Homo sapiens: one gene and its partners. The protein of the gene in region 1 interacts with the protein of each later gene in a pairwise test. Each region holds a gene or a part of one and is shown on either strand. Other genes may lie near its edges. The genes, in order: NSG1, SLC23A2 and TMEM45B.

The links.
Region 2: the proteins of NSG1 (region 1) and SLC23A2 interact in a two-hybrid assay, tested with the Homo sapiens proteins (one large-scale study listed by BioGRID).
Region 3: the proteins of NSG1 (region 1) and TMEM45B interact in binary tests that used the Homo sapiens proteins (3 or more experiments, as listed by UniProt).

What each region holds. Positions count from the first base shown.
Region 1 is NC_000004.12:4,393,483-4,397,133, forward strand, and holds part of NSG1 (neuronal vesicle trafficking-associated protein 1), read left to right. Parts: intron 1-3,651.
Region 2 is NC_000020.11:4,991,494-4,995,144, forward strand, and holds part of SLC23A2 (solute carrier family 23 member 2), read right to left. Parts: intron 1-3,651. UniProt on the Homo sapiens protein: Sodium/ascorbate cotransporter. Mediates electrogenic uptake of vitamin C, with a stoichiometry of 2 Na(+) for each ascorbate.
Region 3 is NC_000011.10:129,818,761-129,822,411, forward strand, and holds part of TMEM45B (transmembrane protein 45B), read left to right. Parts: intron 1-3,651.

The DNA of each region.
Region 1 (3,651 bases):
GATTATGCTCATCCCAATAGACTGGCTGCTGGCAGCAGAAGCCCTGCCTCATCTCCCTGCCTCTACCTCCTGTGGCTGTCTGAGAAGGCGATGTATGCAGTAGGTGCTCAGTACATGACTATACTGGACTAAGTCTGCTGGGTGTGTTCCTCTGCTTAGTTTTCTTTTCCTCCTTTATGATTCACAACTGCCCTGAAGGGGTGGCATCGGCCCCTTTACACGTAAGGCTGTTGAGTCCCAGGTGGTCCCAGGGTGGCTGGGGTGCTCCCTCTGTGACTCTCTAGCTTCAAAGCCAAGGCCTTCCCAACATACCTTGCACCACATCCCTCCCCACTCCCATGGGACGCCTGCTGCTTCCCAGACCCCATCCCTTCCATCTCCTCCCAGGGCAGGTGCAGATCACACCTCTGCCAGGAAGCCTCCTGGGTCACTCTCATTTGCAACAGACCTCACCGCCCTGTTTCCAGTGCCTTTTGTAGCCAGGCTGCAATGGCATCTAACAGTGACGGAGTGATCCATGAGCTAGACTCTGCTTCACACTCCTAATGCTCATATTGTCTCATTTAATCTTCATAAACACCTCAGGAGGTAGGCGCCCTTATAGCTCCATTTTACATAGAGGGGAAACTGAGGCAGAGAGCCTTGGCAGCCTGCTCTTGGCTGTGGCACCAGAGGTCCTTGGTTTCTTGGAGAAGTGGGTTTGTGTGGGAGCACTCACCCCAGGCGCCATCGCTGTTGAGCCATTCCACTTCTTCAAATCCTTTTCCTTTGTTGATTCAAAACCCTTGCTCTGCTGCCTTGAGCCACACAGAATGTGCGGCGCCCTCCTTCCCCATCCCCAAGGCCTTCAGAGACATGGCAGGCACAGGTACCCCGGAAGCCTCCCCAGTGTACAGCTTCTTTTTCTCTTGTGTCTTTCTGAGTCCTGGTTTCCACGCTCCCTTCCCCCAGGTGCTCTCTTTTGAGGGTCTGGGTTGGGCTGTCTTCTCTTTGGGTGTGAAACCTGTGACTGGGTGTCCTGGCAAGGTCCATTGGTGTGGCCCTTCCAAGCATAGGCCCCCTCGACCTGAACTGGTGACCCGAGGAGGGGAACAAGGCCATGGAGACCCCCTGAGCCAAGAATGTCAGCCAAGAATGAATGCTTAGGGACTCTTTGTGCAGACGGAACTTACTCATCAGCCGCTCTATGCCAGCCATGGTAAGAGCTCCTTGATATCATCTCTCTGGCGCTTCTTGCACACACAGTAACAGCTTGATAAGTAAATGGATGACTAATTGTGCTGCTGGCCTCCCATGAATGGGGTACTTGGCGAGATTTCCTGGGTCTGCCCGTGGGTCCTTGCTTGTTGAGTAAGTTCAGCTGGCAGCTCATTGGATTGAAGCCTCTCTCGGGGCCATGCTTACGCGTAAGCCTCTAACAGGTGATGCCTGTCAGCTCTCACCAAGTCAGACAGGTGACCTGCTCAAGACCACACAGTCAGTGAGTGGCAGAGGCAGAGTAGGAGCTGGGCAGCCGGCTCTAGAAGCCTGTTGCTGTGGCATACTTCAGCCCACTAGCTTGCCCAGGAAGCCTGCAGGCTGGACTTTCGCAGCTGAACAACTTGCATTCTAAGGGCATCTCTTCTCTGTGCCTGCTCCGAGCCCCTTCTCAACTGGGAAGGAGATTTACCTAGCTCCCTGCCCACTTGCTGTGGGGTGGATGTGAGAGGCAGCCTCCAAAGTGCTGCTTCCCCAGGTGTTTCTGGAGCCACCTGAGTCAGCATCACCTGAAGTTTGATTTTAACTTGGACCCTGAACCGCAGGGAGATGCGTTTTGACAAATGCTTTCCAGGTGATCCTAATGTGTCCTGAGTTTTCGAGCCTTTCCGATGGGGGTGCATTCCAGCACAGAAGCTGGGAAGGATGAGGAGGGCTGGTGCTTTTTGGGAATGCTAAGGGTGCCCACCTTTCTGGAATGTTCTCCCAGCTTTTTATTACCCAGTTAGATTTCTGGCATCCCTGAACGCGTGCACACAATGAGGCGTGTGTGAAGCTGCAGCTGGTTGAGGGCTGGGCGGGTCTCTCTTTCTGAAACGGGAGCATATGGGGAGCAGGCTATGCTGGAGACACGGGCATGATGGAGGGTCCGCAATAGAGATTCACCCTCCCTGGCTTGTGTACCCCCCTGCCAGGGCCCAGTCGAAGCTGTGGTTGGGACAGAGCATCTTCCTCGTCCCACTAGTGACTGGACAGCTTCTGTGCAGCTCCCTGGCCCAGCCATCATCTTAGCTCTTTCATCTCCATGCATGAATTGCAGGAATGGAATCTCGCCTTTCCGATCTTGAAGTGACAGGTAAATCGTTTGTCCCCTCCTCTCTCCAATTTGTGTAGCTCAGAAGCACCTCATCTTTATAGGCGTTTGGATGGCATCCTTGAAACGGAGTGTCTTTTTGCATGCAGCTTTCTGATTGTCACTTGGGGATTAATCTCTTGGCTGTGAGGTTACTAGGCTGGTTGCTAGGTAACTGCTGACTGGGAGAAGGTTCTGAGAGACTCCGCCACACGGGATGGCAGGAGGACTCCCCCAGCGGCGGCCAGCTGCTTGGGCTTCCAAAGAGGTTCTTGTCAAGGAAAGCAGTCGCTTAATTAACTGGAGGCATATTTACAGTGAGAATAAACACTGGCTGAGATGTTTCTCAACCAAACCTAAACATTTTTGAAATTGCACTTCCCCACTGATGCCTGCAGAGTGGCGGGTCGGGGCTGCTGGGGCCGCTGCTTGCAGTTCTCCTTCCGGTCTGGAGACTGTCATTAGGGGCCGTCATCAGACAGGTGACAGGAAGGCTCCCTCAGGGCCCGCTCCAGCCCTTCGTGCTTCGTGATTCCGGTGATGACCGGTTGCTGACGCTGGAGAGGTCTCCACACCCTGTTTGCCTGTGATGTGAGGTCAGGTTTGGGTGGTCCAGCCTTGACCCTCACCGGGTACCATGTCACCCTGGGGCCTTGAGAGATCTGAAGGTCGGCTTTGCACGGGAACACCTTTCACCGCCAGCACAGGGCTGGGGAGTGACTTGGCAGGAGAGCCCTCGTTAGTCTGCGTGGTCCCCCTGGTTGGCAGTCCAGACTCTGGTGGGGACGTCCCTCTGCATCCTGTCGCAGAGGACTCTGTGGGTGGTTTGTGTCTTTTCTTCACATCCCTAATGACCTTGAGCTTCCTGCGTGCCCATCTGTTTCCACATTCTCCAGTAAGCCCCTGGTGTGTTCCCTAATGACCTTGAGCTTCCTGCGTGCGCATCTGTTTCCACATTCTCCAGTAAGCCCCTGGTGTGTTTCAAGATGCATTTCTTAAATATTTATGAAGAGTGATGCCGTTTCCTTGGCATTCAGCAGTGGGGGTGGGGGTTCTTCCCGTGGGGGTGGTATTGGAGACCCTGAAGGTGTGTGTGGACGCCCCCTCACCTTTAGCTATGCGAGCATCTTGTAGGATCCTGGGGCTGTGGTTGCAGAGCCCACCTTCCCCAGGCTAGCTGTAGTGTGGGGGCTTCGGCTGAATCAGATACCACGTGGGTTCAGTCATCTGTGTGTGTGTGTGTGTGTGTATGTATTCACTTTTGTGTGGGTTACCTAAAATATTTAGTGCTGTAAACGCTTGAAGATGTCGGGATTCATCTT
Region 2 (3,651 bases), on another chromosome or scaffold:
CAGGTGGATCACAAGGTCAGCAGTTCAAGACCAGCCTGACCAATACGGTGAAACCCCATCTCTACTAAAAATACAAAAATTAGCTGGGTGTAGTGGTGCACACCTGTAATCCCAGCTACTCAGGAGGCCGAGGCAGGAGAATTGCTTGAATCCAGGAGGCGGAGGTTGCAGTGAGCTGAGATCACACCACTGCACTCCAGCCTGGGTGACAGAGAGAGACTCCGTTTCACACACACACACACACACACACACACACACACACACACACACAAAAGTAATCTATAGACCACATATTAGGAAAAATCTAGAGACACTGACTTTTTCTGTTCATACACAGAACAAGTCAATATTATAAAGATGACAAGTCTCCCCAAATTAACTTATGCATTTAATGAAATTTCCCATTAACAGTATTTTGACAGCCTGGCCAACATGGTGAAACTCTGTCTCTACTAAGAATACAAAAATTAGCCAGGCGTGGTGGCACATGCCTGTAATCCCAGCTACTCGGGAGGCTGAGGCAGGAGAATCACTTGAACCTGGGAGGCAGAGGTTGCAGTGAGCCGAGATCGCGCCATTACACTCAAGCCTGGGGGACAGAGTGAGACTCCATCTCAAGATGGAGGGAGTATTTTGAAACCCTAAATTGAAAAACACTGGAGTAAAAACTGAGCATAGGCACTACCAGATAATAAAGCCTACTATAAAGTGATTTTAATGTCTAAAATAGTAAGGTCATGGCAAAAGAACAGATAAACTGACTAAAACAACAGATCCAAGGATTCAGCATATGATTAAGGTGTTATTTTTTAAGTTAATAAGGATGAATTAATAGTACCCAAAAAATATAAACTAGAGGGGACAAATAATCCTTACTTCATACCATACTCCAAAACAAATATCAGACTAATTATAGCCAATTTTTTTTTAAAGAACTAAGAGAAAACATGAGTGAATACCTATAAAATTTAGGGATAACAAAGCCATGGGAAATAAAAAAAGATTGACAGTTTTTTTTTTTTTTTTTTTTTGGAGACGGAGTTTTTCGCTCTTGTTGCCCAGGTTAGAGTGTAATGAGGCGATCTTGGCTCACTGCAACCTCCACCTCCCGGGTTCGAGTGATTCTCCTCCCTCAGCCTCCCGAGTAGCTGGGATTACAGGCATGTACTACCATGCCGGGCTAATTTTGTATTTTTAGTAGAGACGGGGTTTCTCCATGTTGGTCAGGCTGGTCTGGAACTCCTGACCTCAGGTGATCTGCCCACCTCGGCCTCCCAAAGTGCTGAGATTACAGGCATGAGCCACCGCGCTTGGCCAACAGACTTGAATTTAAGTCAAGGCATAGAAAAAAATATTTGCAAAGTAGGACAAAAAAATGCAAATCTTAACACAGGTTGAGTATTCCTAATTCAAAAATCCAAAATTTGAAAGGATCCAAAATTTGAAAGGCTCCAAAATTCAGTACTTTCTGAGTGCCAACAAGACACTCAAAAGAAAATGCTCAGCCTGGCGCAGTGGCTCATGCCTGTAATCCCAGCACTTTGGGAGGCCGAGGCAGGTGGATCACGAGGTCAGGAGATCGAGCCCATCCTGGCCAACACAGTGAAACCCCGTCTCTACTAAAAACACACACACAAAAAATTAGCCAGGCATGGTAGCGGGCGCCTGCAGTCCCAGCTCCTAGGGAGGCTGAGGCAAGAGAATGGCATGAACCTGGGAGGTGGAGCTTGCAGTGAGCTGAGATCGTGCCACTGCACTCCAGCCTGGGCGCGCCACTGCACCCCAGCCTGGGCGACAAAGCAAGACTCCGTCTCAAAAAAAAAAAAAAAGGAAACGCTCACTGAAGCATTCTGAATTTCAGATTAAAAAATTAGGAATGCTCAACTGGTAAGTATAGTGCAAATATGCCAAAATCCGAAAAAAAAAAAAGAAAAAAAGAAACCCAAAATCCAAAACACTTTCTAGTCATAAGCACTTCGGAGAAGGTATATTCAACCTGTACGTGTTTCTCAAGCAGGTCAAGATCAAAAACAATGTATCTAGTAGCATCAACTTTACTCAAAGAACATGGAAGAAAAATGTTTTATATTAAAACAAGCACTGATGTTTCTGAAACAGAATGAGAAATTCACATTAATTTTAGATAAAACAGAAGAGACTTAAAAGAAGTGTCATGCTTGTTATATTCCAAACACTTTTAAATATGCATACATTCCCCCATATCATGCATCTGTGGAAAAATTTGTGAAGCAATGTCTATAAATATAAATATCAAAAAAGCTCTTGATAAGAAATATATGAACTTGGGCTGGGAACAGTGGCTCACGGCTGTAATCCCAGAACTTTAGGAGGCTTGAGCTCAAGAGTTCGAGACCATCCTGACCAACACAGGAGACCCCCATCTCTAAAAACATAGTGAAACCCTGTCTCTACAAAAAATACAACAATTAGTTGGGTGTAGTGGTACATGCCTGTAGTCCCAGCTACTCAAGAGGCTGAAGTGGGAGGATCTCTTGAGCCCGGGAGGCAGAAGCTGCAAGTGAGCAGAGATCTCACCACTGCACTCCAGCCTGGGTGACAGACCCTGTCTCAAAAAATATAGATACATGAATTCAATAGAAAATTCTCAGCACTGACCACATATACCTTACTGTGAAGCAGGATCACCAAACTTTTTCTGTAAAGGGCCAGAGTTACATGGTCTCTTGAGTGAGCTTGGCTGTGTTGCAATTAAACCTTATTTACAAAACCAGATGCTGGTGATGCCTCCACCAGCAACATCCCTGTCACCTGAGAACTTGTGAGAAATGCACATTTTCGGGGTCCACCCTAGATCTTCAGAATGAGATCCATGTTTGACAAGGAAGGTGTTGTAGTTAGCCCCCAGCTAGGTGATCTGCCTTTGGAGACAGGAAATGATTTTAGCCAGCCCTGGAGAGGAGTCAATAAAGCCAAACCGAATTTGAGGCTGAAATCCCATCTAAAGTAGAATGTATAAGAAATTGTGTTGGCCAGGTGCGGCGGCTCACACCTGTAATCTCAGCACTTTGGGAGGCTGAGGCAGGTGGATCACGAGGTCAGGAGTTCGAGACCAGCCTGAACAATACGGTGAAACCCCGTCTCTACTAAAAATATGAAAATTAGCCAGGCGTAGCTACTCAGGAGGCCGAGGCAGAAGAATCGCTTGAACCCATGAGGCGGAGGTTTCAGTGAGCCGATATCGCACCACTGCACTCCAGCCTGGGCGACAGAGCAAGATTCCGTCCCCAAAAAAAATATGAAAATACAAAAATTAGCCAGGCGCAGTTGCAGTGACCGTAATCCCAACTACTCAGGAGGCTGAGGCAGGAGAATCGCTTGAACCTAGGAGGTGGAGGTTGCAGTGAGCCAAGATCGCACCATTGCACTCTAGCCTGGGCAACAAGAGCAAAACTCTGTCTCAAAAAAAAAAAGAAAAAAGAAAGAAAGAAAGCAATTGTGTTTCCTTCATGAAGACTGAGGACACAGCAGTGCTTTCGGTCTGAAGCAGGGTGGAGAAGACCCTCAGAGTCACAAAGCCAAGAACTCTGAGATGAAATGATGGTCCAAAATGAAAAAGCTTATTCAAATTTAATTGAATGGAGCTGGGGGTATGTATATATTCACTTGAAC
Region 3 (3,651 bases), on another chromosome or scaffold:
AATTACAAAAATATCTTAGAGCTGAGTATAACCTTAAAGATTGTCAAGTCCAATCTTGTGGTTTTTCAAGGAAGAAAACCGGATTTAAGAAAAATAAAGCAAGTACCTCATGTTGCTTCCCCAAATCTACTTCATTGGAGAATTACAGCTAAAAACAATGTTCAGATTTTTGCTCCTTCTGTCATGTGGTCCCTTGAGAATTTGCCAAATGTATAAATCCAGTGACTTATTTTGATGTACTCTTTTGGTTTGAGGTCTGTGACAGCAAACATAACCTCCTTGAATCCCAGCCTCAAATGCCTATGGACCTTCTGTTCTAACTGTTATTATAACTGTAGCCGTTATTATAGTGGCTAAAGTTCTAACTTCTGTTCTAACTGTGCTCCTGGTTCCATGACAAAGAGAGCTTTACTTGTCTTATTCCTAGCACAGTGCCCATAGCAGGCATACATAAAATGTGGTATGTCAGATAAACATCTGAAAAAGTGTGAGATGTCATTAGACGTTCATTCAGCTACAAGAACAGAAAACCCTACTACAGCGGCTTAAACAAGTAAGGAGTTTGTTTTTCTCAGAGAACGAGAAGTCTGGAGGTGAGAAGGCTGGGGCTGGGAAAGGGGTTCCGATATGAACGTCATCTGAGACAGGCTCCTTGTGTCTTCCCGCACCACCCTCCTTAGCATGGAGCTTTCATACTCACTTCCGCAAGTTGCAGCAGAAAGACGGGCAGAGGCATGCTCCAGAAGAGTCTTGTCTTGTCTTTTCTTTTCTTTTCTTTTCTCTCTTCTTTTCTTTTCTCTCTCTCTCTCTCTGTCTCATCTCTTTCTTTCTTTTGACTCAGAGTCTCTCTCAGTGGCACAATCTCGGCTCACTGCAACCTCCGCTTCCTGGGTTCAAGTGATTCTCCTGCCTCAGCCTCCAAGTAGCTGGGATTACAGACGTGCACCACCACGCCCAGCTAATTTTTGTATTTTTAGTAGAGACGGGGTTTCACCATGTTGGTCAGGCTGGTCTTGAACTCCTGACCCTGTGATCTGCCCCCCTCGGCCTCCCAAAGTGCTGGGATTACAGATGTGAGCCACCACGCCTGGCCTGTCCTTCTTTATAATAAATAATAATAATAACAGCTTTTCTGGTAGCCCACCCCAAAAGACTTCTTACATGTCATTGGCCAGAACCATATCACATACACACTGTTAACGGTGACGGAACCAGAGAGAATCTAGTGTTTGAGACAGACACGTTGCCAATACATCAAAATAAGAATTTTGGGCCAGACACAGTGGCTCACGCCTGTAATTCCAGCATTTTGGGAGGTCAAGGCGGGTGGATCACCTGAGGTCAGGAGTTCAAGACCAGCCTGGCCAACATGGTGAAACCCCATCTCTACTAAAAACACAAAAAATCAGCCGGGCGTGCTAGCAGGCGCCTATAGTCCCAGCTACTCAGGAGGCTGAGGCAGGAGAATCGCTTGAACCCAGGAGGCAGAGGTTGCAGTGAGCCGAGATCATGCCACTTGCACTCCAGCCTGGACAACAAGAGCGAAACTCCATCTCAAAAAAATAATAATAACAACAAAATAGGAATTTTGTTAATAAGGCGGGGGGAGAATGAACATTGGGTAGGCAGCTAGCAGCATCTGCCATAGTGTGTTTTATGAGTCATAGATCCTGTCTCTAAATAGGTTGTTATTTGTTTTGGTTTTTTGTTTGTTTTACTAAAAAGCAATGGGTAATGCAGTGGGTCCAGGGGAACTTTTTTAAATGGTAGAGTGCAAGGACCACTCTGAGAACTGCTGATTATGTAGGTCTGGGCTGGGTCTATAATTCTCCATTATGGACGGGCACGCCAGGTCATCTGAGGGCAGGTGGTTGCGGGAATACATTTTGAGAAACACCGAATGTCAGGTAGTTTAGCAAAAGCGACTTTATTTTATTTCTGTTAGCTTTTTGCCTCACTCCTCTTGAGGGTATACTTTATTTTTTAATTATCTGCTTTGGTCAACATAAATCAATGTATAGTCTTAGAAGTCGTTCATTGTAGAAGGTTTTCATTGAGTTTATACTGAGTATAGAACCCTAGCGGCAATTACTTTCAATGCTTTGGGTTGTGTTTTTCTGATATTACCATATTCTAAATAGCATGCAGATACGGGCCATTTCTTCTTCTCTTTTCCAGTTCTGGATGACATCTATTGACATCCTACCAAGAAGGATGAGGGTTTCGCTCCTTTACACCCCCACCCTCCCTCTCACCTTCACATCCCTTTCTTTTAAGTTCCCAGTACGGTTATATCCTAAATTTTTGATATGTCAATGTTTGGTGTATATATTATTCCCAACTAAGGCACATGATACACCATGATCTTTACATTTCCCTTCTTGACCAGTCTTTCCCCCAACCCCCTGGAATGGGGTGTAGGAGTTGCTACATTTTCTTTAGTTGTTTGAGAACTCATCACCAAGAAGTCATTTCCTGGAGCCAAGGAAACTCATGGGGGCCCTCTGAGTGCTGCTAATTGCATGGAGCTGTTGAGTGGGGAGGAAACGCCAGGCCGCCATCAAGAAGCATTTGGGGTAAATTTTCCAAGCACATCTGAAAAGACAGAGTCTAGAACCTCCACGGTCCCTGTCTGTTGTGATTTATTTTCTCATTCTAAATACACACACACTTTTTTTTTCTGTCTAGGCCATCTCTTGTGGAATACATATGTACTTTCATACCCAATTATGTACAGTTTTTGTAATTTTACGCCTTTTTCTTAAAGAAGGCTCCCAAAAGTGTATAAGATTCAGGCCCCATAAGATGCGGTTGCTTTTTGAGCTTGTGCCCATTTGAGATGTCACTTTTCTTCCTTCACACTTGCTTGCTGGTTTGGCTGGGTATGGGATATTAATCAGAAATCATTTCCCGTACGAATTTTGAAAACATTGCTCTATTTTATTCTACTTTCTTACGGTGCTGTTGAGAGGCTGATGCCATTCTAATTCCTGATCCCTTGTATTTTGTTCTAATCTCTGGGCATTTGTAGGGTTTTCTTTATTGTTCATATTCTGATATTTCATGATGTTGTTATTTAATGTTGGGGTGGGTTTTTTGGCGGGGTGGGGGGAATACAGGGAGGTATCCGTCACTGTCCTAAGTATTTTCTAGGCCTTTTCAATCCAAAAAGTACATTCTTCAGTTCTGAGTGGTTTTCTTCTGTTATATAATTTCCTCGTTCTTTCTTTCTGAAACTTAAATTACTTAGACTGAATCTGAAAATGGGATCTCTTGGATCTGTCTTGTAATTTTATCTTTTTTATTTTAAAAAATATCCCATGTTTTTTTAGTTCTAATAAATCTTCCAACAATGCTATTAAATGTTTACATTCTACCATTATATTTTTAATTCTCAGGAGCTTTTATTGGCGAGAGGTGTGGTCTTCTGAATGGTTTTTACAGTATCCTGTTCTCATTTCATGAACGCAGCATCTTCTCTTCTTTCTCCAAGCATATTAACTCAGTACTTTTTCTACATTTTAGAAGTTTTCTTCAGCTACCTACAATGTCTGTGTCTATTTTTAAAGTGACGTTTAATGTTGCTTTTGGCCTGCCTTTCACGTTGGAAGCTTTATACATGTTTGGGGATGGTGTGCGTCATCTGTGAGC